Homo sapiens: one gene and its partners. Changing the gene in region 2 together with the main gene of any one other region gives a genetic interaction. Each region holds a gene or a part of one and is shown on either strand. Other genes may lie near its edges.

Region 1 (3,500 bases), on a different chromosome or scaffold from region 2:
GGAGTTTTGCCATGACATCTTATGCTCACTCACATTATAGCTTTTATCCACACTCTAGTGTAATTACCTTTCTACTTCCTGTCTCCACCACTAGAGTAAAAGCTCCTCAAAGGGAAGGAAATATGCTGTTCACTATTGCTTTCTATTACCGATGGATAGCAGATAATGGGCACTCTGTGAATGTCCAGTTAATTAGTTTTGTAATAGAAAAGACACTGATGGGGAAAGCCCTCTTTAGCTCTCTTGACATCCTAATACAATTCTTTCCCCACAGAACAAACAAAAGAAGAGAAGGAAGAAGAAGAAGAAGGTCCTAGACCAGGCCATTGTTTCTGGTAATGTCCCATCTAGCCCAGAAGAAGTGGAGGCTGTGTGGCCAGCCCTGGCTGAGCAGCTACAGTGCTGTGCCCAGGTAGGTGGTTACAGAAACCCTGTCTTTTTTGAGAATAGTGCTCAGGGTATACAATCTGGGTTTTCCACTCCCTCCGCTCCCATAGCTTTATCCATCTCTAGAATTCTGAGCTCAGCATGGACTCCGTGGTTCCCTTTGATGCGGCCTCAGAGGTGCCAGTGGAGGAGCAGCGGGCAGAAGCTATGGTACGGATCCAAGACTGTCTCCTGGCTGGCCAGGCCCCACAGGCCCTGACTCTCCTGAGGTCTGCTCGGTAAGAACCCTGCCTGCTCATCCTCTTGGGCTTTGGGGGAAGGAGGAGGCCATCACTGCGGTACAGTGTTCTCAGTCTTCAAAAGAGAGTTGTCTCATCAAGGCTCTGGGACTGTATACCAACTGACTCCTGGGGCGTTTTGATTGGTTTGTTGGGTTTTTTTGTTTCTGAAAAACATTAAAAAAGCATAGTTAATTGAGAAAAAAATAAAGAAAGCAAATCCTCACTTGACATCATCAATAAGTCCTTGGTAATTGCAGCTTTGAGTAAAATGACCTACGGCATGTTTCTTATAACGTTAAGAGAAAAAAAACTGGTTTTGTTATACATTGTTTCACTTAAAGTGGCAGTATCCAAGAACCTATTGAAGACATTAAGGGCGGACTTAACTTTAATTCTAGTAGCCAAAGATATGCATCATTAACATTTTGATGAGTAACCATCCAGAGGTTTTTTTGCTCCGTTACATGTAAAAATATCGTATATACCTTGTTTTACAAAAATGAAATACTGTACATGCTGATTTATAGTAATTTTTCACTTCTCAGTATATTATGAGCATGATTTCTCATCAGATATATTTCTGTAATTGTTAATGGCTTTAAAACACCATTGTGTGAATATGTACATTTGTTCAACCAGGTGTCAAACATTTAGATTGTTTGCATTTTGTTCTTAGCTGGTTTTTATTGAATTGTGGCTTATGAGGAAAATTTTCCCTGGAGTCTTTGTTTCATTTGAGGTAACAGTTTGCATTCTGTTTCTGGCCAACAAAAGAAATAAGTCTAAATTCCTTCTTCTACTTCGAATTATAAATTTAAAGCCAGATTTCCCCTGGGTAAAGCCTTTTTTCTATCTGTGCTCCAGGGAGGTGTGGCCTGAAGGAGATGTGTTTGGCTCTCAAGACATTTCTCCAGAGGAAGAGATCCAGTTGCTGAAACAAATCCTCTCTGCTCCACTTCCCCGTGAGTCTCCACCCTTCACATCTGTCTCCTTCCAGCTCTTTTCTAGCACCAACATAACAGAGACTCAGTAATCCTCCCTCTGTCTATAGGGCAGCAGGGCCCAGAGGAACGTGGGGCAGAGGAAGAAGAAGAGGAGGAGGAGGAGGAAGAGGAGGAGTTGCAAGTGGTCCAGGTGTCGGAGAAAGAATTTAATTTTCTGGACTACCTGAAACGGTGCGGGCTGAGAGGCCTGAGTTGGTCCTAGAGTGGCGATTGTGCGGCTGTGAGGATGAGCTATGTCTTCCTTATGCTGACATCCTCTCCCTCCTTGTTTTGGTGCAGCTTTGCATGTTCAACTGTCGTTCGAGCCTATGTGCTGCTACTAAGGAGCTACCAGCAGAATAGTGCCCACACTAACCATTGCATTGTGAAGATGCTGCACCGGCTGGCCCATGACCTCAAAATGGAAGCCCTACTTTTTCAGCTGTCAGTCTTCTGCCTCTTCAATCGTCTGCTTAGTGACCCTGCTGCTGGAGCCTACAAAGTGAGGGGATAACAAGGAATGGGGTTCTGGAAGGGTATGGGAACCCTCAGGTAAATAAATAATCTTCAGGAGATAGAAGGTGCTGAGAGGTGTCAAGGGCTGGGAGATGGGAAAACAATGAGAAAGTAGACAGGCAGGTTGAGGGAGCTGCATGGAGAAGGACAGAAGAGAGTGAGTGAGGAGGGGGCAGCTGGGAACAGCTATAGAGAAAATACCTAGAGGGCCAGGTTCGGGTCTGCATTGGACCAGAGAGGCCTCATAGTAACCTCCTTCTCCTACAGGAGCTAGTGACTTTTGCCAAATACATCCTGGGCAAATTTTTTGCACTGGCTGCAGTCAACCAAAAAGCCTTTGTGGAGCTGTTGTTCTGGAAGAACACAGCTGTGGTTCGAGAGATGACTGAGGGCTATGGCTCCCTGGATGACAGGTGAGCTTGAAGTTGGCAAAGGGTGGGTGGGGGTAGGGGAAGTTTGATGCAGAGTCACAGAATGTCAAAGCTGTTAAGAGCTTGCATGTCATTTAGCCCACTGTTTCTTTCCCTATTATGGGTGAGAGAACAGGCTCAGGAGGTGAAATGCTTTACCTAAAGTTATCCAAGAGAGGAGCAGGGACTGGAGCCTAAGTCTAGTGTGTATCTAGTTTCCTTCTCCATCACCAGCCTCCATAGAGGTAGTCACTGTTGGGAGCTGGGTGGTTGCCCAGAGGGAGTCTGTGTGCGACCTCTCCCAAAATGTGCTGGGAAACCATGAGGATTTGTAGAAATGTTTGTCCTCTTTCCCTTAGTATCTCAGCCCCTCTCCTTTCACACTTAGTCTCTTTTTCCCATAATATTCTCAGTCCCTAGAGTCAGAATGGTCAGGGTTCCATTGGCCCAACCTGGAAAATCTCTTAGTTTGACTTTTAGGTTCTTACGTGGAAGGAAAGTGAGGGGAAGGAGGCACACTGTAGGCCTCTGCTGGCTGGCCTCTTTCAGTTACCTGCCTTGTCCTTCCTGTTCTTTTCAGAACTGATCAGAGAAGGCCTTTGGTCTCCTCTTTTTGGGCCAAGAACCTATATGCTCCCTTTCTCCTTTCACCATTCAGGTCTTCCAGTCGCAGAGCACCTACATGGAGCCCCGAAGAAGAGGCTCATCTTCGGGAGCTGTACCTCGCCAATAAGGACGTGGAAGGTGAGAGGCCTTGGGATCTGGAGAGTTTATGAGGAGGGCAGCTTGAGCTGTGGGACCTTCTTTACTGCCTTAGTCCTTCCCCACGCCAGGGCAGGATGTGGTGGAAGCCATCTTGGCCCACCTGAATACTGTTCCTCGAACACGCAAGCAGATCATCCACCATCTGGTACAGATGGGAC
Region 2 (3,500 bases):
ACTGTCAAATATAATCATGGTAAAAATACAAATTTTTGCAGAATAAATAAAGTTCAAAAAAAGCACAGATTGAAAGGAACTATCTATAACCTATAGGATAATAGATTAACCTCCAGAATATAGAAAGAGTTCCTATACATCAAAAAGGAAGACAAAAAAATCTAGAAAATGGGCAAAGGACACAAATAGGTAACTCACAAAAAATATAAATGTAGCTAATAAACATATTAAAAATAAGTATTAATTTTTAAATTAATTATTTTGCCATCAGTGGCCAGAAAAAATAACATTCCTGTTATGAATATAAACGGTAGAACTTTCCCTGGAGGGCAATTTGGCAATATCTAACATACATAATATTGACTCAAAAATTTCATTACCAGAGATCTATTCTAAAGAAATATATACCAATGTGTTCTAAGACATGTTTACAAGGATATTGTTAATTACTGTACAGTTTATAATAGTAAAAAGAAAACAACTTAGAGGTGTTAAGTAAAGGTGTATCCATGGAATACTATGCAATGTTTAAATACAGTAAGATTTATCTTCATGTATTGACATGAAAAGTGCTAAGGAATACTGTAAAAAGGCAAGCTGAAGGTGTATATGGAGAATCCTTTTTTAAAAGATCTACATGTAAATATGCTTACATTTCAAATCACAGATAAAGGATTAAACATAGTACCATAAATTGACAGTAGTTACTTCCGGGGAAAGGAACTAAAGGTAATCTATCACATAGTCAATCTAGTTATGCCATCCAGAATATTTTACAGTTAGAATACATTCAGGTTTTACTTGAATATTCAGTTAAAATGAGATAAGCTAGAAAAAAATAAGCCAAAATTTTACTAGTAAATTACCTTTGGGTAGATGGATTATGGACTATTTTTCTTCAGTTCACTATTTCTCAAAATTTCTATTTTAACATATACATATTAGCTATATAATAAAAAACTAAATGAATACAAATATTCAAAACTATTTCCCAAATAAGTAGATATATGACAAGATGATACTAATTTTATTAGCATTAATAACCAACCAACACCTCTGAAATACGGGGAGTGTTTAGTTCTAAATCTTTCTTTTTTTTTGAACTCTGTGATTCTAGAAACATACCAGCAGGAGGATTCTGTAAAAGCTGTTTGATCTGTGCAGGAGAAAGTTCTGTTCTAGTCATAGAAAGGGTTACACCAAGTTGCTGCAATTGTGTTTTTATATTGGCTTGTTCAAAATGGGCATATAGCGTTGTAGCTGGAACTCTTCTTGAAGTACCATTTGGCGAACGCTCAACAACATAAATAACAACTTCTGTCCTGAAGGAAGAATAACCAATTTATAAAATATGGAGCACAAAACTCATAGCGACAAACCTCAGCATATCATAGCATGTGATTTCAGAAGGGTTTAAGTTGAATTCAGAAATGGTTGTTTTAGGAGGCAATTAAAATGTTTCCTTTTTTTTTTTTTTTGAGCAAGGTTTGCTCTGTTGCCCAGGCTGGAGTGCAGTGGTATCATCACTGCAGCCTCAATGTCCCAGGCTTAAGCAATTCTCCCACCTCAGCCTCCAAGTAACTGAGAGTACAGCTGCACACCCGCTACGTTTAGCTTACATGTATGTGTGTCTATACATAAATATATATGATATATATATATATATATTTTTAAATTTTTTTGAGAGACGGACACTCGCTATGTTGCCTAGGCTAGTCTCAAACTCCTGGTCTCAAGCAATCCTCCCACCTTGACCTCCCAAAGTTCTGGGATTACAGGTATGATGAGCTGCTGTGCCCAACTGTTTTCTTCTTAAATCTTGGAAAATAAGAAAGTTTTACTTCATGTAATGTTCATTTACAAATCAACCTAAATGATAAAGTTAAAAAGAACCAGGTAAATAAGATAGTATTTGTTTTTTTTTTTGAGACGGAGTCTCTCTCTGTCCCTCAGGCTGGAGTTCAGTGGCTCAATCTTGGCTCACTGCAAGCTCCGCCTCCTGGGTTCATGCCACTCTCCTGCCTCAGCCTCCCTCGTAGCTGGGACTACAGGCACCTGCCACCACGCCCGGCTGATTTTTTTTGTATTTTTAGTAGAGACAGGGTTTCACCGTGTCAGCCAGGATGGCCTCGATCTCCTGACCTCATGATCCGCCCGTCTCGGCCTCCCAAAGTGCTGGGATTACAGGCGTGAGCCACCGTGCCCGGCCAATAAGATAATATTTATAAAAGGGTTTGCTTAGTTGCAAAATCCTATGTAAATGTTATTTACTATAGGAAATTCTGTTGAAATTTATGGGCTGCTTCTCTGCAATTACAACCACAAGTAAAATCTGTTCAATTATTGCATCTCATTAATAATCATTCCTCCAAATATCCTAAAATAAATGTCTTGCCACTAACACTGAGAATTATACTTAGGTCAAGGGAAGTAAAGCAATAATATTTATTCATGAATGAACATGAACAGTAATGAGTTAATAACATTTTCCAATAACATCTTTATGGCCCTCAATTTGCACGCATCTATGACAAATGGTCCCTTCCTGGCCTGAATGAAAATCTAGAAAATTATTAGCATCTAGTAAGTTAAAAAATCCAAAATTTTAAAAAAACTTTTAAATAAATGTTTTTATCAATACTGAATAATCACTAGCTGAGAAAAGGCATTCTGCTCTGAGAGTTAATTTGTGCTTTAGCAACAAAAACATTATTGATCACTCCCTTAGGACCAGAAATAAATACACAGAAATAAACAGTATATTTATGTATACTTACTGATCATCTGGCAATGTTTTAGTGCCCTCTACATTTACAGTAAGGGTCTGGTTTCCTCCCAAAACTTTATGCAATGATTCTACCAACTGTTGTTGTTGGCTTCGAATCTCTGTTTCTTTTTTGTTGAAAACTAAAACCACTAGCCCATCTTCATCTTTATTACTGGGCATGCAACTATAACCTACTGCCTGTGGAATGACAAAATAAACAATATAAAAAATATGTACAGATCTTAAATCAGGTGTTTAATATTAATAGCTTAATATCTGCTAAAATGGGAAAAACAACTTAATGTCTGGTAATTAAGGGAATAATGATTCTTCCCACCATTTTGTGCCCTAGGAGGTCACAAAATTATAAAGAAAAACTATTTTACCCAGGAATAACATTAACCTATAGAGTAAGATTAACATTTCCTCTTTGAGAGAGTAACTAAACAGCTTTCTCCCCTAAAAAATTTTGATATTCATTATTGTTGGTTGTTTCTGAACCATCTGCATGTCATTATAAAAGTGACTGCAAAAATCACCAACTAATTATAATTTATTTCACTATACAGATTCTCAACTTATGATTTTTCCATTTTATAGGGTGTGAAAGCAATACGCATTCATATATACATACATGTAAACCATACATGGAATTCTGATCTTTTAGTTTTTATTATAAAATTATTATTATTATAAGATGGACTTGATGTTAGATTATTCTGCCCAATTGTAC
Region 3 (3,500 bases), on a different chromosome or scaffold from region 2:
TTTAGTAGAAACGGAGTTTCACCATATTGGCCAGGCTGGTCACAAACTCTTGACTTCAGGTGATCTGCCAGCCTCGTCCTCCCAAAGTGCTGGGATTACAGGCGTGAGCCACTGTGCCTGACCAGACATGGATATTTCAACCTTTATTTTAAACGTATTCTACTGGAAACATTCAAATGCAAAGATTAGACTCTAGTTCCACTCTTTAAACTACAAGTTTATACAATAGAAAGCTCTCATGAAGTACTGGATGTAGAAGTAATCTATCTGGAGATCTGAAAATAACAAAATGGAAAATACAACTCCAATACTGAAAATGAGTACAGGTGCTGTCTCACTGCTATCAGGTACATCACTGCTAACACATGGAGAAGTGTGGGAAGGGTGCAACAATTCCTGCAACCTAGCAAAATTTTCTGCAGGCAGAGAGATTTTTCCTGAACCATTCCACAATACTGTCTAACTGCTTACTTCAAAGAAAACGTTACTCAAGTGACTACAAATCACACAAACCAAACCAACGGTCCTACTTCAACTGATAATTTGTACAGTTAGAAAAATTTTAAATGACTATAATGGAAATCTCTCCTTCTGGTCAGAATGAAAACACCAGTTGTTCCGAATTTAATCATCATTGCTATTTGTCAAATATGAAGAAGTTTTCATCGCATCGCAATCATTACCACTCAACACTTGGGGATGAACAAAAGAGATCAGGAAACAATCTTTCCCTGAAACAAATGATCCTACTACTTTGTGCATTCAAAAGTAAGACTGACCTCACACTGGTCCACTGAAAATCAGCTCCTAAACCACAACAGCACAACTAAATTAGGTTACTTCATGTCAAGTGGTTGCTCTCCCATTTGGAAATCTTACTGTATATTGCAGAGCAGACAATTACAAAAGGCCTCACCCCTCCTCATCAAGGAAGCTGTAACGGGCTGAAAGGACAGATTTCATGCTGTTCCAAAATGAAAATGTGTTCTCCCACTTATTAAGGTCCACTAAGTGATAGGCATCTACCACACGCTATTATATTCATTTCTCATAATTACCCTACAGGTAGGTATTATTGTCGTTATTTTACAGAAGAAGAAACAAGTTAAGAACCTGCTCCAGCACAGAGGGTAAATGCACTGCAGAGACAGAACTCTTCCCTTGGTCTGACTCCAATCAGCAACTAATACTGTCCTCTCCCATAGGCACTTTTTGGCCAAAGTTTTAAAAATCCATTTCCTCCTGCAATTAATCTACTTACATTATATTGAGTGCTTTGAGTCTCTGCAGGAAAACACTAAAATGACCTTGTAGCCTTCCTAAACTGTGACAGTGCATGCATGAAAAACTGAATAAACAAAATGAAAAGAAAGACTGTAAGACATCAGATAACTCACAACCAGTTTCCTCTGAGAACAAGAAACAGAATGGAAAAGAACAACTTACTGGCAAAGGAATATTCTTCCTGGTTGTATGCCTGAGGCCAGGATTGACCTTAAGAAGGTCATTTGTGACCCTAGTAATGTCCTCTGCCATTCTCATTCCGGTGAATGAAGTAAACCTGTCACTTAAAGTCATCTCTGCCATCAAGTCAATGCGTCCACAGGAGAGGCAATGCTATCCAGTGGAATGAGCACCTATCTGGAAATCCAGTGATCTGGGCAAGATTTGGCTCTGCCCTTGCATAGCCAAGTGACCCTGTCAAGGTCATCTCACTCTTTTGGAGCCTCAGTACAAAGGACACGCCTGAAAGAACTGAAGTTCGCTTCCTGAGCTAAGAAGCCAGGACTTTTTTTCTTTTCCCATAACATTCTATGGTGTCAACACAGTGTTTAAGAGTAAGGGCTTCATTTACATAAGAATTAAGAATTACAAATCTGTGGCTGAGCACTGTGGCTAACACCTGTAATCCCACCACTTCAGGAGGCCGAAGAGGGCGGATCACGAGGTCAGGAGTTTGAGACCAGCCTGGCCAACACAGTGAAACCCCGTCTCTACTAAAAATACAAAAAATTAGCCAGGCATGGTGGCGGGCGTCTATAATCCCAGCTACTCAGGAGGCTGAGGCAAGAGAATCGCTTGAACCTGGGAGGCAGAGGTTGCAGTGAGCCAAGATCGCGCCATTGCACTCCAGTCTGGGGAAACAGTGCGAGACTCTATCTCAAAAAAAAAAAAAAAACAGAATTACAAATCCGTGTCTGAATCTGGGCTCTGCTACTTACTGGCTGTGAGAACTTAAGCAAATTACTTTTCAGTTTCCTCACACGTAAAAATGAGGGTGGCTATATTATCTACCTCATAGTGTATGAGAATAAATATACATAATACATTTATATCCCAGCTGGTACAATGTAAGCAAGCACTCAATAAAAGTAGTAACTATATTATCCCTGTGTTTGATTCACAGATCCTAGTGGCTCAGTACTTTTGAACTAAAAGATATAAATTTCAAAATTACCTCAAAAAGACACCCAGCATAGCCTGGCTGGGCACGGTGGCTCACGCCTATAATCCCAGCACTTTGGGAGGCCGAGGTGGGTGGATCACCTGAGGTCAGGAGTTGAAGACCAGCCTGGCTAACATGGTGGAAGCCCGTGTCTACTAAAAATACAAAAATTAGCTGGGTGTTGTGGTGCACACCTGTAATCCCAGCTACTCGGGAGGCTGAGGCAGGAGAATCGCTTGAACCCGGGAGACAGAGGTTGCAGTAAGCCAAGATCACACCACTGCAACTCCAGCCTGAGTGACAGAGTAAAACTCTCAAAAAACAAAACAAAACAAAACCCAAAACAAGACTCCCAGCATAGCTCCATAGCACAGAATGGGTTTAGCCCATATATGTTTACAATTCTGTGGTATGAATCCTCATTTCGCTTTGCCTTCATTTCTCTGAAAATAAAAGGGGATAAAAATGCCTTGTAAAATCTTCTCTAGTACAGTTTTGGGATTTTTATTTATTTTTTGGGAGACTGAGTCTCGCTGTGTTGCCCAGACTGGAGGGCAGTGACACAATCTCAGCTCACTGCAACCTCTACCTCCCGGGTTCCAGCAATTCTCCTGCCTCAGTCTTCCGAGTAGCTGGGATTACAGGCGCCCACCACCATGCCAGGCTAATTTTTGTAATTTTGTTTCATCATGTGTGCGAGGCTGGTCTCAAACTCCTGACTTCAAATACCACCTGCCTCAGCCTCCCAAAACGCTGGGATTAGAGGCGTGAGCCACTGCGCCCAGTCTCTAGTAGTTCTGACCAAAGAAAAAAATGTGTAAGTATAAATGAGATAACAGATTTGTCATAAGAATTAAATAAGATGCCATGAACACAGCCTATAAAGTATAAATCTTAGTATGATTTCTGCCTGAAGAAAAAGCTGAGGTTCACAAGTTTTCAACATAAACTCAGATCTACTGAGATTTCCTGAGAGTTCAAGATTTCTAGAGTGGTCAATTCCAGATCTTAACAAGGTGGCCATGGGTATAAGGGGCTAACATGGAATGAAGGT
Region 4 (3,500 bases), on a different chromosome or scaffold from region 2:
TAATTGTGTGGTTTTGAGTGTTTATCTTGGTATTGATTTCTATTTTTATTTCACTGTGGTCCAAGCACATACTTGGCATGATTAAGATTAAAAAAAAATTTATTGAGACTTGCTTTAGTACCCATCTGGAAGTTCTTGTTTTATGAATCTGCGTGCTACAATATTGGGTGTATATACATTTAGGATAGTTAAGTCTTCTTGTTGAATTGAACTTTTTATCACGTAATGATCCTCTTTGTCCTTTTTTATTGCTGTTGGTTTAAAGTTTATTTATCTGAAACAAGAATAGCAACCCCTGCTCTTTTTTGTTTTTCATTTGCATGATAGATCTTTCTCCATCCCTTTACTTTGAGGCTGGGGGTATGAGTTAGTTTCCTGAAGATAGCAGAAGGATGGGTCTTTTTTTATTTTTTTCATTTTTAAATTCAACTTGCCACCCTGTGTCTTTTAAGTGGAGTGTTTAGACTGTTTACATTCAAGGTTAATGATACGTGAGATTTTTTTCCTGCGGTGGTGCTGTTGGCTGGTTGCTTTGTAGCCTTGATTGTGTAGTTGTTTTATAGGGTCTGTGGGCTGTGTACTTACGTGTATTTTTGTGGTAGCAGATACTGTTTTTGTTTCCATGTTTAGAACTCCCATAAGCATCTCTTGTAAGGCCAGTCTAGTGGTAACAGATTCCCTTAGCAATTGCTAATCCTGCAAAGATTTTATTTCTCCTTCGCTTATGAAGCTTAATTTGGTGGGATATGGAATTCTTGGCTGGAATTTCTCCTAGGATGCTAAATATAGGCCTCCAGTCTCTTCTGGCTTATAAGATTTCTACTGAGAAGTCTGCTGTTAGCCTGATGAGGTTCCCTTTATAGGTGATATGACTCTTTTTCTAGTTGTCTTTAAGATTTTTTCTTTTACATAGACCTTGGAAAGTCTGATGACTCTGCCTTGATGATGGTCGTTTTGTATAGTACCGTACAGGGGTTTTCTGAGTTTCTTATATTAGCATGTTGACCTGTCTAGCAACTTTGGAGACATTTTTGTGGATTATATTCTCAAATATGTCTTTCATGGTGCTTACTCTTTCTTCTTAGGAATATCGTGGGTTGTAGGTTTGGTCACTTTATGTAATCCTATTATTTCTCAGAGGCTTTGTTCATTTGTTGAAGATTCTTTTTCTTTATTTTTGTCTGACTCAGTTGCTTCAAAGGATTGGTCTTCAAGCTCTGAGATTCTTTCCTCTGCTTGGTTTAGTCTGTTGTTAAGCATCTCTTATAAGGCCGGTTGTTAAGATTTTTAATTGTATTTTGAAATTCCTGTGGTGAATTGAATTTCAGATTGGTTCTTCCTTAGTATAGCTATGTTATATTCCAAATCTTGGATTGTTTTTCTGACTTCCTTGGATTGGATTTCAACCTTCTCTTGGGTCTTGTTGAGCTTCCTTGCCATCCATATTCTGAATTCTGTGTCTATAATTTCAGACATTACGTTCTGGTTGGGATCCATTGCTAGGGAGTATATGCAATCCTTTGGAAATAACAAAACACTCTAACTTTTTGAATTGCCAGAGTTCTTGCACTGATTACTTCTCATCTGAGGGAACTGGTCCTTCTTTTTGTTTTTGAATTTGCTGTTGATTGAATGGGTTTTTTTTTTTTAAATATTCTTTTTTCCCTTGAGAGTTTGATGGTGGTAAATGTTGTGTATAGTCAGTTGGCTTCATTTCTGGGTGCTTTCAGAGGGCCAAGGCTCTGTATGAGTTCCTTGGTTGTAGATAGGTTTCTATGAGGGTTTCACAGGCTTTGCATGTTGAAGCAGTGTATTTTGTTTTGCTGTGTAATTCAAGCTGCAGTTGGTGCTTAAATATAAGGGCAGATAGGCTCTTACACAGCTGCGCATGCTCCCTTTGTATTTCATTGTGTCCTCAGCAGTGCTCTGGAGAGAGGACGCAGGGTAAGAGATGACTTTCTCTCATAGTCTGTTCTTAAGCCTTGGTGGTATCCCCCTCAGCTACTGGCACTGTCTCACGTTTCCTTTGCTCTGTGTGGGGCTTTGGTGGGCTTCTCTTCCTGCTCGCTTAGATATGATTCAAGCCAAGGGTTAGGCCACCAGGAGACCTGAAACTCCTTAGGGACCTACCAGTCCCCTGTGCTTGTCAGTAAGAGTGGGTTGTGGGGTATGTCTGCAGGTGGTCTGGTAATGCAGTGGGTCAAGCAAGGGTGGTAGATCCTCAGGCAGGGAAGTGGCACCGTATGTGTGTGTAGCCAGTATAGTGACCATGGCCCGGGTTTGCAGCCCAGCCGATGGCTGTGTGGCCCTCACAACTTGCACTCCCCTGACCTGGTTGGTCTCTGTCTGATGTCTGTCTCAGGAGCAGGCGCAACCAGACTGGCCAGGCTTGTCTCAAAAGCCCTGCGTGCCCAGTTCGTTGAGCCATTTCAGATGCTCCAAGCCACGGAGCTTCCTGGGGAAGAAACCTTGGCTGGCTGTCAGGCCACACCCATCCTGGACTGGTCTTCTGAAGAGAGGTTGCTTAGTTTCCATGCCACACTCTTCTCTGTATTCTGAGAGTGAAGGCTCCTTTCCTGCCCAAGCTCAGGCCACAGAGCTTAACTCAATACCCCTGGGCAGTGTGCTTGAGTCCTGGGGAAGTGGGACCAGGCCTGCACATTTGTCCTCTGGCCCCTTAGGATCAGCCAGCAGGCTGCCAGCAGAACACTCAGGCAGGGAAGTGGAGGCTGTTCTGTGGGCACTGTCTTGCAGGAGCAGCCAGGCAGGCAGTCTTTGAAGAGTTGGCAGGCAAAGGGGCATGTGGATCAGATACACTATGGTCCTATGGCAGTGGCAGTCTTACTCTCTTCGCCCTGCAGATAGCAGGACCTGCAGCCACTCAGTACAAGCTGGAGAGCCTTGGAGGATGGGCCCTATGGTGGTGTTTTGCTGCAGCTGCACCGTGGTCTGTGGGGCTCATGGCTAGAATCTTGTAGCTAGGATCCCAGAGGACCATGGTGGGAGTGTGGTGCCCCAGGGTTCCTTTACTCAGCCCTCCCTTAGGTCCACACTGGAACTGGGGGCCAGTCCTGGTGCCTAGTTACTCCAAGCAGTCTACGTCGCTTCTTCCCTCTTCAAACACTGTGTCTGCTTTGCCTCTCTATTGGCTTTCAGTGTTTTCTCTCAAAAGATCTGTTCAAAGTTGCAGGATTTTGTATTGTCAAGTTTTGGTGGTTCAAAGTGTGGTGGCTTACTTGATATTTTGGTTCCTTTTCATGGAAGAGGCGTTTTTCAGCTGTAGGTAGTTGGCCGTCTTGCCTAGAACTCTTTTTTATATTCTTAATGATGTCTTTCAAAGAGCAAACCCTTGCTATTTTGAAATAGTCTAATTTATCAGTATTTTTCTTCATTTTATGCTTTTTGTGTTTTATCTAAGAAACTTTTTCTACTCTAAGCTTGCAAAGATTTACTCCTGTATTTTCTTCTAGAAGTTTTGTAAATCTAGCTAGTTTATTTCT
Region 5 (3,500 bases), on a different chromosome or scaffold from region 2:
CCCCCCTCCCACCACCTCTCCACCACCCCACCCCCCCCCAAAAAAAAGATCCACAACTCCATTCTCATTCTTGACCAAGCCACTTTAATTTGTAACTTTAATGTGCAATATGAAGTCGATAATCCTTGAAATTCTCACCTGGCTCCTGCAGGAAAACAAAAGTAGAAAGCTTTAAGTACTTTTATATTCACTAATTCAAATCCATAATTCATTTATTCAATTATTCAAGTATTTATTGAGCACTGATCATGTGACAGCCTTGTAGACAAGAGAAGCAAAATCACCCTTCCTCTCTCAAGGGTTTACAGTCCAGTCATTAAAACAAATTTGTTGGCCAGGTACACTGGCTCACACCTGTAATCCCAACACTTTGGGAAGCCAAGAGGTGGATCACTTGAGTCCAAGAATTTGAGATCAGCCTGGGCAACATGGCAAAACCTCATCTCTACAAAATATACAAAAATTAGCCAAGAGTAGTAGTCCCAGCTACTGAGAAGGCTGAGGCGGGAGAATCACTTGAGCTCAGGAGGTTGGGGTTACAGTGAGCCATGATCACGCTGCACTCCAGTCTGGATGACAGAATGAGACCCTGTCTCAAATAACATAACATAACATAACATAACATAACATAACATAACATAACATAAAACATAACATAACATAACATAACATAACAAACTAAAATAAAATAAAATAAAATAAAATATAAAATAAAAGCATGTTAAATAAAAACATATTAACCCCTAGGGGTTTATGAGGAAAGGGAACCTTCTTAGTACCTCCCTTTTTAAAGAAGAAAAATTCTTGACTTCCTGACCTGGAAAATGAAAAAGCCATAACCCTTTACTGTTTAAAGAGTTAGTTTTCATATAGTTCTATATAGTAATACTCCCATATGCTGGATCTATTTAAATGTTGAGAGCAGGACACTGTAGTTTTGCAGCTACGTACTGTAAGCTCCATCTGTCCTGTTCACCACTGTAGGCCTGTGCTTGGCACAGAATTGGTCTTAATATATCTTTGATCAGTGGATGGATAAATGAAACCCTAAAATTATAACCTAACTTAGGAAAAAAATTTTTTTTTATTATACAATGGGCCAGGTGTGGTGGCACATGCCTGTAATCCCAGCACTTTGGGAGGCAGAGGCAGGAGAATCATTTGAGCCCAGGAGTTCAAGACCAGCCTGGGCAACATAGTGACACCCTGTCTCTACAAAATAAAAAATGTAAATAAAATAAAACATACAATGAAAAGGAAGAAGAGACCAAAGCAAATGTGAAAACTTAAGGCAGAAATCAGATACATGGCCAGGCGTGGTGGCTCACACCTGTAATCCTAGCACTTTGGGAGTCTGAGGTGGGCAGATCACTTGAGGTCAGAAGTTCGAGACCAGCCTGGCCAACGTGGCAAAACTCTGCCTCTACTAAAAATACAAAAATTAGCCAAGTGTGGTAGCATGTGCCTATAATCCCAGCTACTCAGGAGGCTGAGGAAGGAGAATCACTTGAACCTGGAAGGCAGAGGTTGCAGTGAGCCCAGATCACGCCACTGCACTCCAGTCTGGGCGACAGAGCAAGACTCTGTCTCAAAAAAAAAAAAAAAAGCAGATACAGGACATGGTTAACTCAACTTCATGCTGTTAGAATATGCAGTTTTTTCAAGTCCATCATAGGCACAAAGTAAAAACTAATGTTTATGAAAAAAGGTAAATATGACATAAAGAAATTTGGAGCACACCCACTTGTACAGAGTGAGGCTGAGTCTACACCTTCAGTCTTCATCATCAGGAGGGATACCTAATTCTTCATCTGTCCACTGGGAAGGATCAGGATACGGAAAGTGACCCTGGTGACAACCATTTAAAAGAAAGAAAAGTCAAGAATTTACATTCTGTGCAACTAATTAAATTGTTAAATAAATCTTGGAAAGAAAAAAAAAAAAACAATATGGCTCAGCCCCTGACCACAGGAACAAATTCTACTTTAATTATTCGATGGCCCACCTGTTCTTTAGTTTGTTCATTATATGGGCTCTGGTCTGAATTTTAAAAGCCTCCCCATTTGGAGGTACCAGCCTAAGCCAATGGTACGTGTCTGTGATAGAGGGAGGGTAGGGGGAAGTGGAGGCAATAGGTTTCAAAGGTTCCTGACATCCTGGCAAAGTCCTGGCAAAATATGTTTCCAACTCTCCTAACATTACTGCTGTGAAATGGAGAAGCCTCAGGTGGACTTCCTCATCTCCAATCCTGATCTAAGGGCTTATCTGGCTGCATCATCATCATCTCAGGCCTAACAGCTATACATACTGTACATACTCCGGACAGCTGACCTACAGTGAGGCAGGGGCACCTCAAATAGTAAATGTGTGGACAGTTCACAGACACCCAGGCAGCTCCTTACTGAAGGACAACGGCACAGAGAAGTTCTAAGAGAAATGGGATATGAAGCAACCTGATGCTTCTAAAACTTACATACTGCTTAAGATTTTTTTCCTATCCTGGAAACAAACCCAAATTTACTACAACTCAAAGTATCCTGGATAAACAAGCACAGATTTCAATGTCTTAAAGACGTAATTTCCCAAAGAACGGTCTGCAAATGTGGTAAAACCTCAGTTGAGGCTAATGATATGTTAGAAAATCACTAAAACTGGCCGGGCGCAGTGGCTCACGCCTGTAATCCCAGCACTTTGGGAGGCCAAGGCAGGTGGATCATGAGGTCAGGAGATCGAGACCATCCTGGCTAACACGGTGAAACCCCGTCTCTACTAAAAATATAAAAAATTAGCCGGGAGTGGTGGCGGGCACCTGCAGTCCCAGCTACTTGGGAGGCTGAGGCAAGAGAATGGCGTGAACCCAGGAGGCGGAGCTTGCAGTGAGCCAAGATCGCACCACTGCACTCCAGCCTGGGTGACAGAGTGAGACTCCATCTCAAAAATAAATAAATAAAATAGAAAATCACTAAAACTAACTTCCCTTCTCAAGACAAATTAACTCACATCCATCCCACCCAAACCTGGCTGCCCTGGGCCTCTGGACAGACCAGAAGACATTCATCATTTAAAGGAATTTAAGTGTGAAACCTAACCTACCAATGAACCGCTAGTTCAGAAGGTAAAAGAATTCATTTCTGGCCAGGCGCGGTGGCTCACGCCTGTGATCCCAGCACTCTGGGAGGCTGAGTCAGGTGGATCACTTGAGGTCAGGAGTTTGAGAGCAGCCTGACCAACATGGTGAAACCCCGTCTCTACTAACAACAAAAAAAATTAGCCGGCGTGGGGGTGCACACCTGTAGTCCCAGCTACTCAAGGGACTGAGGCACCAGAGTCACTTGAACCCGGGATGCAGAGGTTGCAGCGAGCCGAGATTGTGCCACTGCACTCCTGCCTGGTGACAGAGTGAAACTGTGTCTCAAAAAAAAAAAAAAAAAAAATGAGCTTTTAGTCTCCCTAAGATGGCAACCTAACAGAAACCATAAGAAACGGACCACCTAAATATA
Region 6 (3,285 bases), on a different chromosome or scaffold from region 2:
ACTCTGCCTACAAAACTCTCTTAGACAGGTGAATATGCCACTAGAAGTTAGGTTGCTGGTAGACCTGGGGGTCCCTGCGGGAGGGTGATGGTTTCTTTACCACCCCACAGGAGATTTCAGTGGCAAGGCATGCCTGCAGTGGGCTTTGGGCCATGCATCTTCCAAGTCCATAGGTCTTCACCTGGGTGGCAGTGAGAAAAAGTAGAAAGTAATGAGCCTCCTGTGTCTCTGGAAGGTTCTAGGGATAGGGTAGAGGGAAGAAGAGAACAAACAAGCCTGGCTTGTGCTGAAGTGTGGTAGGCACTACCCTGTTTGCGTGAAGAGAAAACAAAGCACCTGTTAGTAGGGAGGCTTTAGGGGGAAGCCCCGTCTTGGGGGCATTTCTGGGCAGATTGTGAATTGGAGGAATCTCTTTAACTGAAGTACTCTGGCTGGACCCTGCCCTTGTGTGACCATGTCTCCTATTGCACCAGCATTTGAATTCCATGGCTCAAGAGGGTTCTGGTACCATTTATTCACAGACTGTATCCTCGAGAGAGCTGCTATATATGGGAGTGTACCAGCCAACTCCTTTTCCAGTGTCTGTAAGTCACCTCATTAAAGTATAATTAGCTGTCTCCTCTGGGAGATCCTACCCCATCAGACAAGGGCAGTGAGCCCAAGCAGTGCCAGAGGCCCTCAGAAAGGGATTAGGGTAGATGATTGCAACTGAAACACAATCTTCTTTCTTTGCCAGGGTATTTTGGGGGTTTTGCCCCAAAATATACCCTGGGCATAGCATTACTGCAGTCTTGGATGTCTACCCCAAACTTCCACACCATCCTTCGACCCACAGCTGCACCTTTATTTATTTATTTTGCTCTGTTGCCCAGGCTGGAGTGCAATGGCGTGATCTCGGCTCACTGCAACCTCTGCCTCCCGGGTTCAAGTGATCCTCCTGCCTTAGCCTCCCAAGTAGCTGGGATTACAGGCACCTGCCACCACGCCTGGCTAGTTTTTGTATTTTTAGTAGAGACGATGTTTCACCATGTTGACCAGGCTGGTCTCGAACTCTTGACCTCAAGTGATCCACTCGCTTCGGCCTCCCAAAGTGCTGGGATTATAGGCGTGAGCCACTGTGCCCAGCCTCACAGCTGCATCTTAACCTTACCTTTGCCTCTGCCTCTCAAGCTGGTACCTCCTAATTTACATCCTAAGAGTGGAACCATGTGACAAGGACTGGAGTGCCATTGGCTGTGGACTGTTCAGGCAGGGAAGTACAAGACCACTCTTGTATTCAGGGGCAACCAAAGGAGAGAATTACGTACTTGTTGAGTACAAACTGCACCAAGCCCTGGAGACCCATTACCACCGTTAACCCTCAATACAGCTCTGCTAGTAAGGGATTCGTCTCCCCAAATGAAAAAAAAAAGTAATCTCAGAATGTTGGCCGAGCATGGTGGCTCACACCTGTAATCCCAGTTATGCAGGAGGCTGAGGCAGGAGAATCACTTGATCTCAGGAGGCGGAGGTTGCAGTGAGTCGACATCACACCACTGCACTCCAGCCTGGGGGACAGAGTGAGACTTCGTCTCGGAAAAAAAAAAAAAAAGTTGACAGGATGGCCAGACCCAAGTGGGCGTATTAAGTGGTGGTGCTAGGATTGGAACCCAAGCGTGATTAAAACCCTATGCAGGCCCTTTCCTCTATATTGTACTGCCTCCTTAACAAAGGAAGATTGATTAAGCCCCTACTTTGTGCCAGTCTCTGTTATCAAGTCCGTTAAATGCATTTAACGTTAAATTTTTTCTTTTTTGGTTTAAAAAACTCTAGTTTCTTAAACTACTAGTTTTTAGTGTCTTGCTAAAACTATGTGCTCTTGAATAGGCTACAACTTATTTCACACTATCTCATTGAACTCTCCTGGTATGTGATAGTGTTATAATGAAAAATTGCATACCAGGACAGCTAAGTCTATTTTGCAACCATACAGCGTTTCATAATTTAGCATTTAAAATACAGACAGTCCCCGACTTTTGGTGGTTTGATGTGGGATTTTTGGTGGAAAAGCAGTATACATTCAGAATGCACCTCTACTTATGATGGGGCTACTTCCTGGTAAACCCATTGTAATGTGCAAATTACGGGTTTATCAGGAGGTGACCCCATCGGTAATGGAGAAGTGCTGGGAGGTAAATATTAGAAATGGAAGTATCTAAATGAGTAAGAAACAGCATGGGAGCATAATTTGGCCAAAATCAAACAGAACTAAAGTAGTCATGTCGGTAAGAATTTGGGACTGCAGGCCAGTTACGATAGCTCTCACCTGTAATCCCAGCATTTTGGGAGGCCGAGGCAGGCGGATCACTTGAGGTCAGGAGTTCAAGACCAGCCTAAACAATATGGCGAAACCTCATCTCTACCAAAAAAATACAAAGATTAGCTGGGCATGGTGTCTCATGCCTGTAGTCCCAGCTACCTATGGGGCTGAGGCAGGAGGATCTCTTGAGCCCAGGAGGTCGATGCTGCATTGAGCCGAGATTGTGCCACTGCTCTCCAGCGTGGGCAACAGAGTGAGACTGTCTCAGGGGGAAAAAAAAAGAGGAAAACAAAAAAGACGTTGGGAGTGCAGTTTCTCTACCTACAGCATATCTCAAAGGTTTTTTTTAAAAAAGTATTTTCTTAACTTTTTACCTTCATTTTTCAAAACAATTAGGGTACAATTTACATATAGTAAAGTTCACTCTTTATAGTTTTAGTTATGTGAGTTTGTACAAACATATACAGGAGTGAACCACTACCACAATCGAAATATAGTTGCATCACCCCCCTAAAACTCTCCAGGCCCTTTTGTAGTCAACTCCTACCCCCGACCCTCAGATTCTGCTAACCACTGATTTGTTTTCTGCCCCTATAGTTTTGCTTTAGTATGACTGTCATATCAATAGAATCATACAATGAGTAGGCTTATTTTATGCCTTCAGGTTTTAAAAATTATAAACATTTACATTACAGTAAAATTCACTCTGGTATACAGTTCTATAAAGCTCTGATAAATGTGTAGAGTTGTGTAACCACCAATGCAACCAAGGTACAGAACAGTCCTCTTAGCCTCTCCCTACCAAATTTATTCCTGCTACTTTGTAGTCAAAACCAGTCCCCTACACCCAAACCCTGGCAGTCACTGGTTTTTTTCTTCGTTCTCTTTTTTTTTTTTTTTTTTTTGAGACAGAGTCTAGCTCTGTTGTCCAGGCTGGAGTGGTGCAGTGGCGTGATCTCGGTTCACTGCAACCTCCGCCTCCAGGG
Region 7 (3,500 bases), on a different chromosome or scaffold from region 2:
AGGAAGAGAATGAAATAGTTTATTTTAAAAATGCAAAGAAACTAAACTTTTCCTGGGTCTTAAAATATGTAGTGATACTGTGAAATATATATTTGGTCTTTGACCTCATTTTCTGGCTTACAACTCCTAAAATACTTAAGAGTCTCTACAAGGTGATGTCTTTTTGTATACTAATGAGTTATCATCAATGGTTGGCAGCCCCTAGGCAGCTTCAGGATGGGGGCTGGTCACCAGAAAGACCAAGGCAAGATTAGAGGGCTGGAAATCTGAGCCCTACCTCCTAACCTCCACGAAGGGGAGGGGGGCTGTGAAGCTGGTCACTCATGGCCAATAATTTAATCAATCATGCCTAGTAATGAAGCCTCCATAAAAACCCAAAAGGACAGTGTTCAGGGAGCTTCCGGATAGCTGAACACAAGGATGTTCTTGGAGGATGGTGGGTTGGGGAGGGTGGGGGGGGATCTGCGACCCTCCCCCCTTTCCTTGCCCTATGCATCTCTTTATTTGTATCCTTTGTAATATCCTTTATAATAAACTAGTAAACATCAGTGTTTCCTTGAGCTCTGTGAGCCTCTCTAGTAAATTAGTCTGATCCAAACAGGGGATCGTGGGAACCCCAACTTAGAGCTGATCAGTCAGAAGCATGGGTAAAACAACCTGGGGCTTGTGGCTGGCATCATTGGGAGTGGAGGACAGTTGTGGGACTGAGCCCTCAACCTGTGTGATCTGGAGCTATCTCCATGTAGACAGTATCAGAACTATATTGGGAGGACACCCAGCTGTTGTCTGTTGCAGACAACTAACTGATTGCGATATCGGGAAAACCCCCCACCCATTTGGTCACAGCAGTCTTCTGTGTTGATTGTGGTAAGACGAGTACAGAAAAAAAGCTGTTTTCTTCACAGAGTTAGATAGGGATGAAAATACTACAATGAATACAATTCAGAAGTTAAGCAATAAGATTCTGTTATGGATCTGCAGAAGTCAAAATAAAGAATTAAACAGAAAGCAGAATTTTTAAATTAGACAAGTATTTATGTTGATGGTGTATGTGCGTGTTTCAAAGAAAATCACAATCATTTTCTAGTAGTAATGAATTCAAAAGATCATTTATTTTGTTTTAAGTATTGTTTTAAAACATAAAAATGTGTGATTTCAAATGCCATTATTTAGGGTTATAAATATCTAGAAAAACAACATCAAAGACCCTTGGCACTAAATCTCCAGCTCAGAATATCTCAGAACACAACAAAACCCAACAACAAAAACTAGTATTTATACCACAAAGCTCTCTAAACCACGAAACCTGTGTATTACTCCAAGCTTGTCGATGATACTAAGACTTCCCATTTTTTATTCATCTCAAAGATCAGCTTTGGCTTTTAACCTTCATTACTAAAACCCCCACATAACTGGGAAAGCCAATGATTTTCTTACTTCTTAAGGTGCTTAAGTTTTCTGCTGCAAGATACATCTGCCAAAACAAACTCTTCTTCACTCTTTTCTCTCTTAGCCACTATGATCTTTACTCCTAGTTCTTCTCCCACCTCTTTTCCTAGTCTCTTCTAGTGTTTTCTTCTTTTTCTCCACCTACCCTAAAATGTCAAAAGTACTCCAAGATTCCAGTCTTATCACTGTATATTCTGTACTGTATTAACCGCCTCTTGACTGGCTCCCCTGACTTCAGTTTTTCTCTTTAATACCTACTTTATCCTGATATCAGAACAACCTTCCTAAAACATCTACCCTGTTGTACCACCTCTGGCTTAAAAACCTCTGTGCCCCACTCCCCCGACCTTCTCCAAACACTGCTCCCCCAGCCCAAATTTGGTTACAGGATAAGGTATACTTTTCTCAACAAGTCATCAAAGAAAGTTTGTAACCTGGCTCCAGGCTTCATTTTCAGTTTCATTACCAACCATTTCCTTCAACTGATCACATGCTCCTGTTCTATAAGAGTATTCATTCTTTTCAGAACAAGCTGTGTGTTTTTATGGCCCTGTCTGTTCCTTCTGTTAACTGTCGTTCCCTTTCTCGTTTATAGGATAAATTCTTACCCATTCTTCAAAGCCCAGTTTATCAGTTAACATTTCTCACCTCTCCTTGAATTTACTAATTTTTTAATCATGCTTCCACAATATTCTGCATACACATTTATAATGGCATTATGACTATATCCTATTGGTATTTTTAGAGTCTACTTTCCATAATAGAAATGAGAGATTTTCTAAAGCAGATTTGGTACTTAATTTATTTTTATGTCTCCTGTGGGTAATACAGTGCCTGGCAGACAGAAGACAAAGGATATGCATTTCTGGAATAAATAATTAAGCTCAACCCTACTTAAAGTTATTTTCTTTTCTGTTTTTTTTTTTTTTTTTTTTTTTTTTTTGAGACAGAGTCTCGCTCTATTGCCTAGGCTGGAGTGCAATGGTGTGATCGGCTCACTGCAACTTCCGCCTCCCAGGTTCAAACAATTCGCCTGCCTCAGCCTCCCGAGTAGCTAGGATTACAGGCGCCTGCCAGCATGGCCAGCTAATTTTTGAATTTTTAGTAGAGACGGGGTTTCATCATGCTGGCCAGGCTGGTCTTGACCTCCTGACCTCAGGTGATCCGCCCACCTCGGCCTCCCAAAGTGCTGGGATTACAGGTGTGAGCCACCGCACCTGGCCAAAGGTATTTTCATATAGATATATACACATACTATTGTTTATCTGCTAACTGGCATTTACAAAATATTACCTGCTCAAAATCTCCCATAGTAGTGTATTTGGTAAACAATCTTCTAATACGTATATGTGCTAAATAAATTTCCATCAAGTAGCAGTAGCTATGAAGTATAAGATTCTACACACCAAAATGCTGGATCTATCTATCTATCTATCTATCTATCTATCTACCTACCTACCTACCGATTGATCGATCGACCGACCTACCTACCACTATTTAGTTGATACAAATATCCAACATAAAGATGGTGCCTTAAAATGCCAATAAAATAAACTTTATTGTGCTGACAAAACAAGATAATTTATACCATTAGGCAATCATTCACATGTGATAAAACATTTTTATAGTTGCTTCATCTAAATCTATAAGATTCAACCTAAATAAAATTCCATTTAAGGAAATGATCATCATCTTACTCCAACTGATGCAAATATCTGAGTTTTTGTACTAACTATCTGACACACTGATTTACTGAAAGAGACAATAATATGCCTTACCTGAACAAGAGAAAAAATCCATAAATTTCGAAGATCATGCCTATCAAAGGCCAACCAATAAGGACTACAAATACACCACCCAGAAAAAAACCTGTAGCTTTCATTTTATGTTTTTGGAAGAAGAATCTGAATGTTCTTTCTAAACCAATTACAAAAGCCAAGCCGGCTACAAATAAAACCTAAAAGAGAAAGAAAATACAACACGGAAAAGGTAATTAAACACAATGCATAAATTTTAAACGTAAAGTCAAAGCTAAATATAAAAAAAGAAGC

The links.
Region 1: changes in NUP54 (region 2) and TIMELESS together harm fitness more than expected from each alone (negative genetic interaction), as found in Homo sapiens cells (one large-scale study listed by BioGRID).
Region 3: changes in NUP54 (region 2) and NFYC together harm fitness more than expected from each alone (negative genetic interaction), as found in Homo sapiens cells (one large-scale study listed by BioGRID).
Region 4: changes in NUP54 (region 2) and RNGTT together harm fitness more than expected from each alone (negative genetic interaction), as found in Homo sapiens cells (one large-scale study listed by BioGRID).
Region 5: changes in NUP54 (region 2) and NDUFB2 together harm fitness more than expected from each alone (negative genetic interaction), as found in Homo sapiens cells (one large-scale study listed by BioGRID).
Region 6: changes in NUP54 (region 2) and GNL3L together harm fitness more than expected from each alone (negative genetic interaction), as found in Homo sapiens cells (one large-scale study listed by BioGRID).
Region 7: changes in NUP54 (region 2) and GOLT1B together harm fitness more than expected from each alone (negative genetic interaction), as found in Homo sapiens cells (one large-scale study listed by BioGRID).

Annotation. Positions count from the first base shown.
Region 1 is NC_000012.12:56,421,927-56,425,426, reverse strand, and holds part of TIMELESS (protein timeless homolog), read left to right. Parts: intron 1-274; coding exon 275-412; intron 413-513; coding exon 514-665; intron 666-1,532; coding exon 1,533-1,630; intron 1,631-1,719; coding exon 1,720-1,843; intron 1,844-1,951; coding exon 1,952-2,153; intron 2,154-2,434; coding exon 2,435-2,580; intron 2,581-3,235; coding exon 3,236-3,321; intron 3,322-3,410; coding exon 3,411-3,500. UniProt on the Homo sapiens protein: Plays an important role in the control of DNA replication, maintenance of replication fork stability, maintenance of genome stability throughout normal DNA replication, DNA repair and in the regulation of the circadian clock.
Region 2 is NC_000004.12:76,131,398-76,134,897, forward strand, and holds part of NUP54 (nucleoporin p54), read right to left. Parts: intron 2,966-3,500; coding exon 2,778-2,965; intron 1,323-2,777; coding exon 1,126-1,322; intron 1-1,125. UniProt on the Homo sapiens protein: Component of the nuclear pore complex, a complex required for the trafficking across the nuclear membrane.
Region 3 is NC_000001.11:40,694,704-40,698,203, reverse strand, and holds part of NFYC (nuclear transcription factor Y subunit gamma), read right to left. Parts: intron 2,599-3,500; exon of another isoform or gene 2,459-2,598; intron 1-2,458. UniProt on the Homo sapiens protein: Component of the sequence-specific heterotrimeric transcription factor (NF-Y) which specifically recognizes a 5'-CCAAT-3' box motif found in the promoters of its target genes.
Region 4 is NC_000006.12:88,908,119-88,911,618, reverse strand, and holds part of RNGTT (mRNA-capping enzyme), read left to right. Parts: intron 1-3,500.
Region 5 is NC_000007.14:140,703,208-140,706,707, reverse strand, and holds the end of NDUFB2 (NADH dehydrogenase [ubiquinone] 1 beta subcomplex subunit 2, mitochondrial precursor), read right to left. Parts: intron 1,849-3,500; coding exon 1,774-1,848; 3' UTR 1,745-1,773; intron 146-1,744; 3' UTR 65-145; downstream 1-64. UniProt on the Homo sapiens protein: Accessory subunit of the mitochondrial membrane respiratory chain NADH dehydrogenase (Complex I), that is believed not to be involved in catalysis. Complex I functions in the transfer of electrons from NADH to the respiratory chain.
Region 6 is NC_000023.11:54,561,219-54,564,503, forward strand, and holds part of GNL3L (guanine nucleotide-binding protein-like 3-like protein), read left to right. Parts: 3' UTR 1-3,285.
Region 7 is NC_000012.12:21,508,289-21,511,788, reverse strand, and holds part of GOLT1B (vesicle transport protein GOT1B), read right to left. Parts: intron 3,407-3,500; coding exon 3,228-3,406; intron 1-3,227. UniProt on the Homo sapiens protein: May be involved in fusion of ER-derived transport vesicles with the Golgi complex.